Linked DNA regions of Homo sapiens. The protein of the gene in region 1 purifies or fractionates together with the protein of each later gene. This does not show direct contact. Each region holds a gene or a part of one and is shown in the gene's direction. Other genes may lie near its edges. The genes, in order: MINPP1 and C1orf87.

Region 1 (7,305 bases):
GGACTGATGTCTGCTTGTCATGTCATTGATTATTATTACTATTTTTTTGAGACAGTGTCTCTCTCTGTTGCCCAGGCTGGAGTGCAGTGGCGCAATCTCAGCTAACTGAAACCTCTGCCTCCCGGATTCAAGTGATTTTCCTGCCTCAGCCTCTCCAGTAGCTGGGATTACAGGCGTGTGCTACCATGCCCAGGTAATTTTTTTATTTTTAGTAGAGATGGGGTTTCACCATGTTAGCCAGGCTGATCTTGAACTCCTGACCTTAGGTGATCTGCCCGCCTGGGCCCCCCAAAGTGCTGGTATTACAGGCATCAGCCACCACTCCTGGCCAGTGATGTTTGATCATTAGATTACAATGGTGCCTGCCTGATTTCTTTATTGTAGAGGTACTTTTTTTCCTTGTAAATAAAGAACTTCTTGGCCGGGCGTGGTGGTTCATGCCTGTAATCCCAGCACTTTGGGCGGCCAAGGCGGGTGGATCACCTGAGGTTAGGAGTTCGAGACCAGCCTGGCCAATGTGGTGAAACCCCGTCCATACTAAAAATTAAAAAATTAGCCAAGCGTGGTGGTGCACACCTGTGATCCCAGCTACTCGGGAGGCTGAAGCAGGAGAATCGCTTGAACCCAGGAGGTGGAGGTTGCAGTGAGCCAAGATTGTGCCACTGCATTCCAGCCTGGGCAACAAAGCAAGACTCTGTCTCAGAAAAAAAAGGAAAAAAGGAAAAAAAAGAACTTCTAATTTAAATGACTGTGACTTGAAAATTTAAATACATGTTTATTAAATTAATTGAATAATAGTTTCTTTTTACATGTGAAAAGAAATTAAATTCTTCTTTTAAAAATTAAGGTTGTCTTTTGATTGAGGTATTTTCTATTATTTACTTCAGCAATTTGTTAGAAAATAATTTATCCCTGCTTAGGACTTTCACTGTGAAATAGGTTTATATGCTGAAGTATTTACAGGTGAAATAAAATGATACCTGGGATTTGCTTCAAAATAATACAGTGGTGGTGGTAGGAGCAAAGCTGAAATGGGATTGGTTGAATGTTGATTATTGTTGAAGTTGGATGAGTACACAGAGGTTCGTTATACTACTGTTTTATATTTTTTATGTGTTTAAAGTTCTTTGTTAAGAATTTTTTTTTTTTTTTTTTTTTTTTGAGACAGAGTCTTCCTCTGTCGCCCAGGCTGGAGTGCAGTGGCCCAATCTCAGCTCACTGCAACCTCTGCCTCTTGCGTTCAAGCAGTCCTCCTGCCTCAGCCTCCCCAGTAGCTGGGATTACAGGCATGTGCCATCATGCCCGGCTAATGTTTGTATTTTTAGTAGAGACGGGGTTTCACCATGTTGGCCAGGCTGGTCTCGAACTCCTGAACTCAAGTGATCCGCCCGCCTCACCCTCCCAAAGTGCTGGGTTTACAGGTGTGAGCCACCGCACCTGGCCAAGAATGTTTTTTACAATTAAAAATTAATAGACATTTATGAAATTCTGAGATAATTAGATATCCTGGACTTTGTGTACCTTCAGCAAGCATTTTTTGAGTTTCCGTTCTGTGACAAGCACTTGCTTGGAACTAAAGACACTAACATAAGATAGATATTGTCCTCAAAGAATGCCACAAGGAATGAAAGACATGTAACTAAACCATTGCAAGACAATAGGATGTCTATACAGTGATAGAAGTATACTCAGATGCTCCTTAAGTTATGGTGGGGTTGCATCCAGATAAACCCATGGTAGATTGAATATCTTAAGTTGGAAGTACATTTACGACTTACAATGGATTTATCCAGACATAGCCTCGTTGTAAGTCAAGGAGCGCACTGAAAGTGTATTGCTTTTGAACCATTGTAAAGTTGAAAAATTTTAAGTCAAACCATCATAAGTTGCAGACTGCCCATGAAAGGTGTAGTGGGGCACAAAGGAGAAAGTTAATTTGTAGGATAGCTTTTTTGCAATTTGTGTCTGCTTTAATAAGTATATCTAGATTTTCTCTCTCCTGGGATTAGTTTTGGTATTTAATATACCTATAAAAGTCATTTATGTTATCCATTATTTGCTGAATTAAGCAAATATATCTTTTGATTTTAAAAAGTGTTTTCCTTCTCTGAAATTATTTCTCCGTAATTGTGTATTTTTGCTTTCAATTTTTTCTTTATTACAGTAGTTTATTGTTTACTAATTTATTTTTTCCCTAAGAAACAGTTTAGCTTTATCTGTTTTTGAACTTTATAATGATGGAATTACTCAGCGTGTGTTTTTTTTCTTTTGGTATCTAGCTCTTGTTCAACATTAAGTTTTTAAGATTTATTTGGGAGCTAAATGGTGAGAACACATGGACAGATAGAGGGGAACAACATACACTGGGGCCTTTCAGAGGGCAGAGGATGGGAAGAGAGAGAGGATCAGGAAAAATAACTAATGGGCACTAGGATTAATAACTGGGTAATGAAGTAATCCATACAACAAACTCCCACGACACAAGTTAAAAAAAAAGCTTCCCATTTATAGATTGCTACTTAGAAGGCAGGGATTTGAACTGGGAGGAATTTAAAATGATCTTGACCTGTTGTGTTGTGAAAAGGTTTACAAATTTCAGGAAAATATACCTCTTCTCAAATGGATTGGGAATTATGAGGTCACAGACATTTCTCAGGATTCCGTAAAACATGTACCTGTAGCAGAGTATTAGAGGAGATTGAAGCAAAGGGGCAAGCGGTAACTTCTTGGGGGCGATTAAGTCATTGTATTATCATGGTGGGGGCAGGTTATACAGTTGTTTATATTTGTCGAAAGTCATCAGCCTGTATATTTAAATCATGTGTATGTAAATTACAATTTAATAAAGTTTTAAAAATGAAAAAAGATTTATGAGGTTGCATATAGCTACAATTTTTAATTTTCATTACTGTATAATATTCCATTATATGAATATTTTACAGTTTATTCATTATCTTTTCAGTAGACATTGTTTTTAGTTTGGGGCTATTATGAACCTTGTTGCTATGAACATTATTGTATATGTTTATTGGGGTACAGGTATACCTGTTTCTGAAGGTGTATGTCTGGTAGAATTATCGATTCTCATGCTTCAGCCTCCTGAGTAGCTGGGACCACAGGCATCCGCCACCACACCTGGCTAATTTTTGTATTTTTAGTAGAGACGGGGTTTTGCCATGTTGGCCAGGCTGGTCTTGAACTCTTGACCTCAAGGGAGCCACTTGCCTCAGCCTCCCAAACTGTTGGGATTACAGGTGTGAGCCACTGCACCTGGCCTTTTTTTTTTTTTTTTGAGACAGAGTCTTGCTCTGTCACCCAGGCTGGAGTACAGAGGCGTGATCTCGGCTCACTGCAAGCTCCACCTCCCGGGTTCAAGCCATTCTGCTGCCTCAGCCTCCCGAGCAGCTGGGATTACAGGCACCCGCCACCACACCCGGCTAATTTTTTGTGTTTTTAGTAGAGACGGGGTTTCACCCTGTTAGCCAGGATGGTCTCGATCTCCTGACCTCGCAATCCGCCTGTCTCAGCCTCCCAAAGTGCTGGGATTACAGGCGTGAGCCACCGCACCCGGCCCTTTTTTTTTTTTAAATATAAAGTTTTAGTGGTAAGCATGTGAGAATTTTTTAAATCTCCAGTTGCCTCCTTTTTATTTCTAATAGTAGATTTTATTATTTGAATAGATTGAACAGACTATTATCTAATTCCTTTTTAAATTTCTTAGTGTTTACGTCTCTTTGTTAACTTCTTGATTTCATTGCCTTTGTGTAAGGACAGACTCTCTCAAGCCGTGTTTTTCCTTTACTCTCACACCACCATCACAATCATCAACACAGAAGACTTCTGTGACCAAATGTGTGGGAGCCTTTCCCCTGCACGCCAAGCAGGAGACACCAGCTGGGTGTCCTCCAGTTCAGATTTGACATTGTCTACCTGGAGGTAGTATTAGATCCCACAGGTTGAGGGCTCAGTCCCCAAGTGCCCCATCGGTACTCTTCTGTTCAGCTGGCTTCAAGTTGGCGTTCCCATGACCTCTTCTTTGGGTTCAGTTAATTTGCTGTAGCAGCTCACAGAACTCAAGGAAACACTTTTGCTGGTTTATTATAAAGGATGTTACAAAGGATACAGATGAAGAGATGAGTAGGGCGAGATATGGGGGAAGGGGCGTGGAGCTTCCATGTCCTCCCTGGGCATGCCACCCTCCAGGAAGCTCCACATGTTCAGCTATCTGTAAGCTCTCTAAACCCAGTCCTCTTGGGTTTTTATGGAAGTATTCCTTCCCCCCAGGATATGAGGCAGGACCCTTTCAGGGCAGGATCTTAAGACCCCCAGAAAGGCAGGAAGATTAGAGTTCTGCCTCCGCACAGGTGAAAGGGAGGCAGGAGAGAGATTCTGTTTCCTGAGGCCTGCCCTGGAGGCCTAACACACCCAGCATTATACCAAAAGACTACAACAAGGGATATGGGAGTTACAAACCAGGAAGTGTGGACGAAAGCCAATATATACATATCATAATACCACAGGTCAGCCCCTGGTTTTCGAAGAGGGATACCTTACATCAAAAGAATATATACAATCATTAATAATCCAGTCCATCATCTGTATGAATGTCTTCCAGGGCAAGGCCACTCAGGTTTGCCAGCTTCCTTTCAATCCTGTCAGGTTCCAAAACCAGGAGTGGTCTTGGCAAATTTATGGCTTCACCCTTTCATGCATCTGTCATACTTGAGCTAAGAGACAGCGTCACCTTTTGCTCTGAGCCCCGTTCAAGGCGTTCATGTAATATGTCATTTCCTTCAATTTATAACCCGTTTATTCATCCTTTTTCCCTCAGCTGTTCTCCTTTTCTTCATTAATAAATATCTACACTGCTACCTTTGGAAGGGACACAAGTTGCCATTGTGCTGTGCTAGTCTAGATTGTAGGCAGCAATGCTAGTGTAGCAAGTAGCTCCTCCTCACCCCTTTAATGTATTTTTTGTTTTGTTTTTATATATGGCACTGACCCACCCCTGCTCTTAAAACTTACTATGACATGCACTTAGTTTCTCTAGGAGCTCTTTCGGGAAGAAAGGTTTGTGACTATTGTAGTCATCTTGAACCTCTTTTGGGTTACATATTTTAGTCCCCTAGTTGTGGTTTTAGCTACAGGTTTTAGTTCTAGATAGAGATTTCAGTTCTCCACTTCTACATGAGCAAATGATCAAATGATATGTAAGTGGAAAATTTAACCCTCAGATAAAGGCTACTTAATTACCAGCTCCCGGTTCCAGACCTTTCAGCAGAGGTTAATAACTGTAATCAGTGATAGGTAGGTTTCAAACCGTTTTCTATACTTTTATAATCTGTATCATTCTTAGAAATATAAAAGGTATAGTGTGTGTGTGTGTGTGTGTGTTGGTAATAAATGGTATTATAGGGTATGTATTATTTTTAATGGGTTCTTATTCAACATTGTGTCTTGGAGATTTTTCCATGTCAGTACATGGAAATCTATAATATAGAACTTTTTGATAACTGCAAAGTATTCTGAAGTATGTGTATACCATAGTTTATTTAACCATCTACCTACTATTGGAATTTAGTTGTTTCTGGGGATTTTTTGGCTTCTATAAGCAGTGCTACTATAAGTCATTCTTGTACATTCTCCCTGGTGTTCCTCTGTGAATATCACTTTATAAGAAATGGAATTAAATGGGTCATAGGGTATGTGTGTTTTCATGGATTTTGCCAATTTGCCCTCTAGAATGTCTATACCAATATACATTCCTTCCAACAGTACCCATTTCCCCATATCCTTGGTACACTTTTATTATTATTTTTTCACCAAACAGATACATGAACCAAAGTAACTCATTTTCTATTTGACTTCTACCTTCTCAAAATTCTTATACATTTCTCATCCACCTATGGTATCTTTCTGTGCTTTAATGAATATTCTTCTTCTTTATTCTTTCTTCTAAATGTATCCTTGACATTTAGAAGAAAGAATAAAGAAGAATATTAATATAATATCATCTTAATATAATGTTAGAAGAAAGGAGAGGTGAGCACATGTCCTTACTCCACTCTCTTGAGCTGTCCTGACCTTGGATGATTGGCTGTGAGCACTTACTGGCTTGCTCTTGCACACCAGCATCTACATTCCCCCAATCCAAATTTGTGATGCAGCATAAATCTCTCTGTGGTATGAACCTTAGGGACCAACTCTTAAATGCTGGAAAGGACAAATACTATATTTTGTGCAGAATGGTAATTAAACATTGTAACCATTTCTTAGAGAATCATTATTAAATCAGGGAATCTTGTTATATTTTTGAAAATATATTAGAAATTATTTTTGAATTTTTTTAGGTATTAGAATATTTAAATGATCTGAAACAATATTGGAAAAGAGGATATGGGTATACTATTAACAGTCGATCCAGCTGCACCTTGTTTCAGGATATCTTTCAGCACTTGGACAAAGCAGTTGAACAGAAACAAAGGTAAGAACTTTCTAAAAAATGTGAAGTACATTTTGAGTTACTACTAAACTTCTGGAAATTTTTTTATAATGAGTAATTTTAAAAAATAGTTTTTGCTTGTGTTTTAAAAAAATTTTAATATAATGTGATACAAAAGAATTCGATAACATATATGTAAATTATAAAACATACGAACCTTCCACTCTACCCAAGAACTAGAATATTCATAATAAATTGCATTTGTTTACTTATGTGTTCCTCAACTATTCCATTTTCCTGCCTCCTCTTGCCCTTCCCTTTCCTCCAGAAACTATTCTTTGGAATTTTGTATTGGTCATTCCTTCGCCTCTTTAAAACAGTTTATATTATGAATGTATTGGTGCCCAAAGAATATATTTAGTTTTTCTTGGAATCATACTGCTTATTGTCTTTTGGGACTTGCTTTGTTTCCCCCCTCAACTTTATGTTTTTAATATTCAACATATTATTGCATATAGCTGTAGTTCATTTTCACTGTAGTACAATATTCAATAATGTGAATATACCATCTACTCTTGTCAGTGGGCATTTAGATAGTTCCTATCTTTTGCTGTTATAATTAGTGTAATTATGAACTCTATGTGGCTCCTGCTATGAATGTGCAAAATGTTTTTGTTTTGAAAGAGAAAAAGCTTTTGTTAACATTTATAATCTTCAATTAAAAATAATTTTTCATGACTTGAACCTTTGATAGAACCTCAATTCCAGGCTTGTTTCAAACTTCTGGGCTCAAGGAATCCTCTCCCGTTGGTCTCCCAAAGTGTTGGGATTACAGGCATGAGCCACTGCACCCAGCTGAGCAC
Region 2 (4,182 bases), on another chromosome or scaffold:
CGTTTCTACTAAAAATACAAAAATGAGCCGGCTGTGGTGGCAGGCACCTGTAGTCCCAGCTACTTGGGAGGCTGAGGCAGGAAAATCACTTGAACCCAGGAAGTGGAGGTTGCAGTGAACCGGGATCATGCCACTGCACTCCAGCCTGGGCAACAAGAGCAAAACTCCATCTCAAAAAAAAAAAAAAAAAAAGGATTCTTATTATTTTTTTATTTTGGTTCTGGTTAGAAAAGACAGGCTTTCCAACACTAAGATGGATTGTAAGGGCTATTTTATGCAGCTGTTCTGGGCATCCCCTAATGACAGAGTAAATTAGACAGATACAAATTTCATTCAGTGGACTTTTTGTTTGACTCTAGGCATCTTCTATCAATGGTAAAGCTTAGAAGATAGAAAATACTACTGTGATTCCTAGATGTATTTTTTAACATAACTTTTAATTTTTAATTAAAATATAAACTAAATGCTATCTATTTTAATAAGCAATTACATATATACTGTTTATATATTTTTAAAATAATGTTGATGACATAATTATTATAATTATCCTATAGTAAAATTTCACATTATTGAGTGATTACTAGTACTGGATACTGTGTGAACTTAATATTTTATTGATTTTCACACAATTTAATTACCTCTGTTTTCTTTTCCTTCTTTCCCTCTTTCTTTCCTCTTTTGACATTTATTTATGTATTTATGTATTTATGTATTTATTTATTTATTTAAGACAGGGGCCTCACTCCGTTGCCTGGGCTAGAATGCAATGGCATGATCACAACTCACTGCAGCCTCGACCTCCCAGGCTCAAATGATCCTCCCACCTTAGCTGGTGCATGCCACCACACCTCACTCATTTTTTTTCTTACAGTCATAAACTTATTCCAAATCCATGTCTTATATTTCCAGAGGCAGGGTGTGGAGAAATGGCCAGAGGAAGCAAAGCTAGACAGGACTGAGAGCAGCCATCCTATCCAGAAAACTTCGAAGATGCAATTGGCCAACTCAAAGAATGAGGTTTACATAAATGAAAGGACCACTGTTCTAATAAGAGAGACAGACAATAAATAGGCAATGAACAAACCAGAACAGAATAGAAAATGAACACACTGGAATAGAACAGAATAAATTAGGACCCCACCTATTGTGGCCTACTGTTAAAAATAGCGATTAGAGAGTAGTTGAGAAGGTGGCACCATGCACAATAGTACTTGCACATTTAAAAATGAGTAATATTTGGTATCTTAAACTGAGATGATAAGTATCTACCATTGCCCAACTCTAATGGACTAGTAGTGGCTTTCCGCAAAATGACAAGGCACTGCCTCTGGATTCTTTAGGAAGGAATTTCACCATCACTCTTACAGTTCGCACATATGAAGGAGAGTAAAAGAGGCCAGGCACAGTGGCACATGCCTATAATCCCAGCACTTTGAAAGGCATTAGGGGGAGGGTTGCTTGAGCTCAGGAGTTCCAGACCAGTCTGGGCACATAGTGAAACTTCATCACTACAAAAAATAAAAATATTAGCTGAGAGTGGTGGCACATACCTGCAATCCCAGCTACTCATGTGGCTTAGGTGGGAGGATCCCTTGAGCCCAGGAGATCAAGGCTACAGTGAGCCATGATCGTGCCTCTGTACTCCAGCCTAGGCAACAGAGTAAGACCCTGTCTCAAAATAAAAAATAAATAAATAAATAAATAAATAAATAAATAAATAAATAGACCCCTACTTGAAGCAATCTCTTTTCCCTCATTCCATAACGTACTGTAGTGGTTAACCTTAGGCAATCAAGAGACTTGCAGTCTCTAGGCTTTAGTTTTGCCCTCTGTGAAATGGGTTATTGTAAGGATTCAATTAGTTAATATTGGTGAAATGCTTGGAGCAGTTCCTGGAACATAGTAAATTTTATATTTAAATATTGTTTAATTATTATTGTTGTATCCCAGTTAATTTTCTGAATAACTTCTCTCCCCCACGGGACAGAGAACTTCCAGAGGTAGCAGAAAAATTCTCTAAATCTTCTGTATTCCCAAGCACAGTATCTGACACATAGATATTTGCAATTAGGGGCTTATGAGTGAGTTATTGATCTTCAGTGATGCCGTGGTCTACACTGCGACTCCTCCCAACAGCCATCAAAATCTATCCAATCTTAACATGGAAAGCATACTGACATTGGTATTGGCATATATAATGTGTGGGTACCAGAGCATATCCTGCAGTCATACACATTACCACCTCTATTACGCAGATTCAAACTCTGAGCTATGAGAAGTTAGATGCTTCACCTGTGATTGCACAGCAAGCTGGAGGGAGTCACAGGACAGTCAGTCCTCTGCATCTTTGTATTCCGCAACTACAGATTCAACCAACTGCATATCAAAAATATTTTAAAAAATAGAAATAAAATATAATGACACGACAACAAAAAAAAGTACAAATTTTAAAACACAGTATAACAACTATTTGCATTGCAATTGCATTGTATTAGGTGTTACAAGTAATCTAGAGATGGTTTAAAGTACATGGGAGAATGTGTATAGGTTACATGCAAATACTACTCCATTTTATATCGGGGCTTGAGCATCCATGGGTGTAGGTATCACTGTTGGGGAGGGGAATATTATGGACCTAATCCCTGCAGATACCAAAGAACATCTATAAATACATTTAGAGAAATGCATTTTGAAAATAAGCTGTTTAATCCCTGCATGTTTAGGAATGTGTTTGGAGACTTTAACAAGATAAAAAGAACTCAGGACAATTAGAAGTTACTTTTGCTAGGCACCCCCAGTGTTTCAAAAATTGGCCTTACAAGTTTTAAAGTTACAAAGAAAAGCCTAAATTGCTTTAGAATTTATCTATGGATCTTATTGGATCCCATCTTGTTCTCTTTCCCCTGAAATCACCCTCAGATTCTTCCTGAAATCTGTGATGCATACCCACAGCTATAAATATTTTTTAATATGCCACTTGATTTTTAAGAAGCTTAAAATTGCAAAGTATTAGCATTTAGTCTTTACCTGGAAGTCATTCAAGCTAATATATAGTTTTCTCTGTTTTCCCTCCATCCTCTTTAAAAAACCTTCCTCCTACCCAATCCAATCACAGGAGTTCTGGAGAAGGAACGAGCCAGACGCCTCATTCACAACTACAATCTCATTTACAACCTGTCCCTGAGCCCTCAGAAAATCGACCAGGCCTTGCGCAGATTCCGTTCGGGAGAAAATATGCTCTTGGAGCCAGCACTGCGGTACTTAAAGGAGCTATGATAACAAGCCCATATTGTGAGAACAGATGTTTCCCTTATCTCCCTTTTTACCCAGACACATGTTTCTCCCCAGCCTAAGTGTAGTGGCGGAGGCATTGTCAGAGTGGAGGCCGATGCAGCTATTGTAGATGCTTTTGATTTGGACTTAGTTTCTGGCTATGATGCTCACTCATAAGCAGTTCAAAGTGATCAGAGGAAACCTAGTTTTATCTTTTGATGTGGCAAGAACCCAGCTACTTAGAATCTCCTTCTGTTTTAATAAAACTTATTATTAATATTACATGTTTGATTTTTTCCTACATTGCTAATCAAACTATGTTGTTTCAAACCCCACAATTCCACATAGTAAAAAAAACATTAAATGTTGCCACTTCCCCACAGTGCCTGGAACCTAGTAGACCTATGAACATCATTTTTGGATAGGTAAATCATCCCTTCTCCTGGTCATTATTCTAGGAAGGATTTCCATACCATAAGAAAAATAAAAGTATTACCAATACACTATCTTAATCTTAAGCAGTAGAAGAAACATTTCAAGTGAGGTTTTCTGAACAAGTCCAATATTTTCTGCAGTACAAAACTAAACAACATTACACTGTCTCCAGGGGTATTTTCCAAAAGTCCAAGATAGAAGTTTTGAGGAAGGACTCCTTGGGACAAAGCGTTTTGGGAATAGGTAACATCCTTTGCTCTGCCTGGACAGGAAAACCAGGTGGAACTTTCCATCAGCTCCCATAGTTCTTCTGTTCTTAACATCCCCCCTGACTTTGCACCACTCACATAGCACACAGTTACACACGTATCACACCATACAGGTAGCATGAGCTCATTGAAGAAACACTGGCCTGGAGCTTCAGAGACAATGTGCTCCCAGCACCATCACTAATACTGGGTGATCAGGGTACTG

The links.
Region 2: the proteins of MINPP1 (region 1) and C1orf87 purify together in Homo sapiens (affinity purification with mass spectrometry; 2 studies listed by BioGRID and IntAct, with this or other methods). This does not show direct contact.

The regions. Positions count from the first base shown.
Region 1 is NC_000010.11:87,514,686-87,521,990, forward strand, and holds part of MINPP1 (multiple inositol polyphosphate phosphatase 1 isoform 1 precursor), read left to right. Parts: intron 1-75; coding exon of another isoform or gene 76-105; exon of another isoform or gene 106-193; intron 194-6,350; coding exon 6,351-6,484; intron 6,485-7,305. UniProt on the Homo sapiens protein: Multiple inositol polyphosphate phosphatase that hydrolyzes 1D-myo-inositol 1,3,4,5,6-pentakisphosphate (InsP5[2OH]) and 1D-myo-inositol hexakisphosphate (InsP6) to a range of less phosphorylated inositol phosphates.
Region 2 is NC_000001.11:59,989,767-59,993,948, reverse strand, and holds the end of C1orf87 (uncharacterized protein C1orf87), read left to right. Parts: intron 1-3,115; coding exon 3,116-3,276; 3' UTR 3,277-3,555; downstream 3,556-4,182.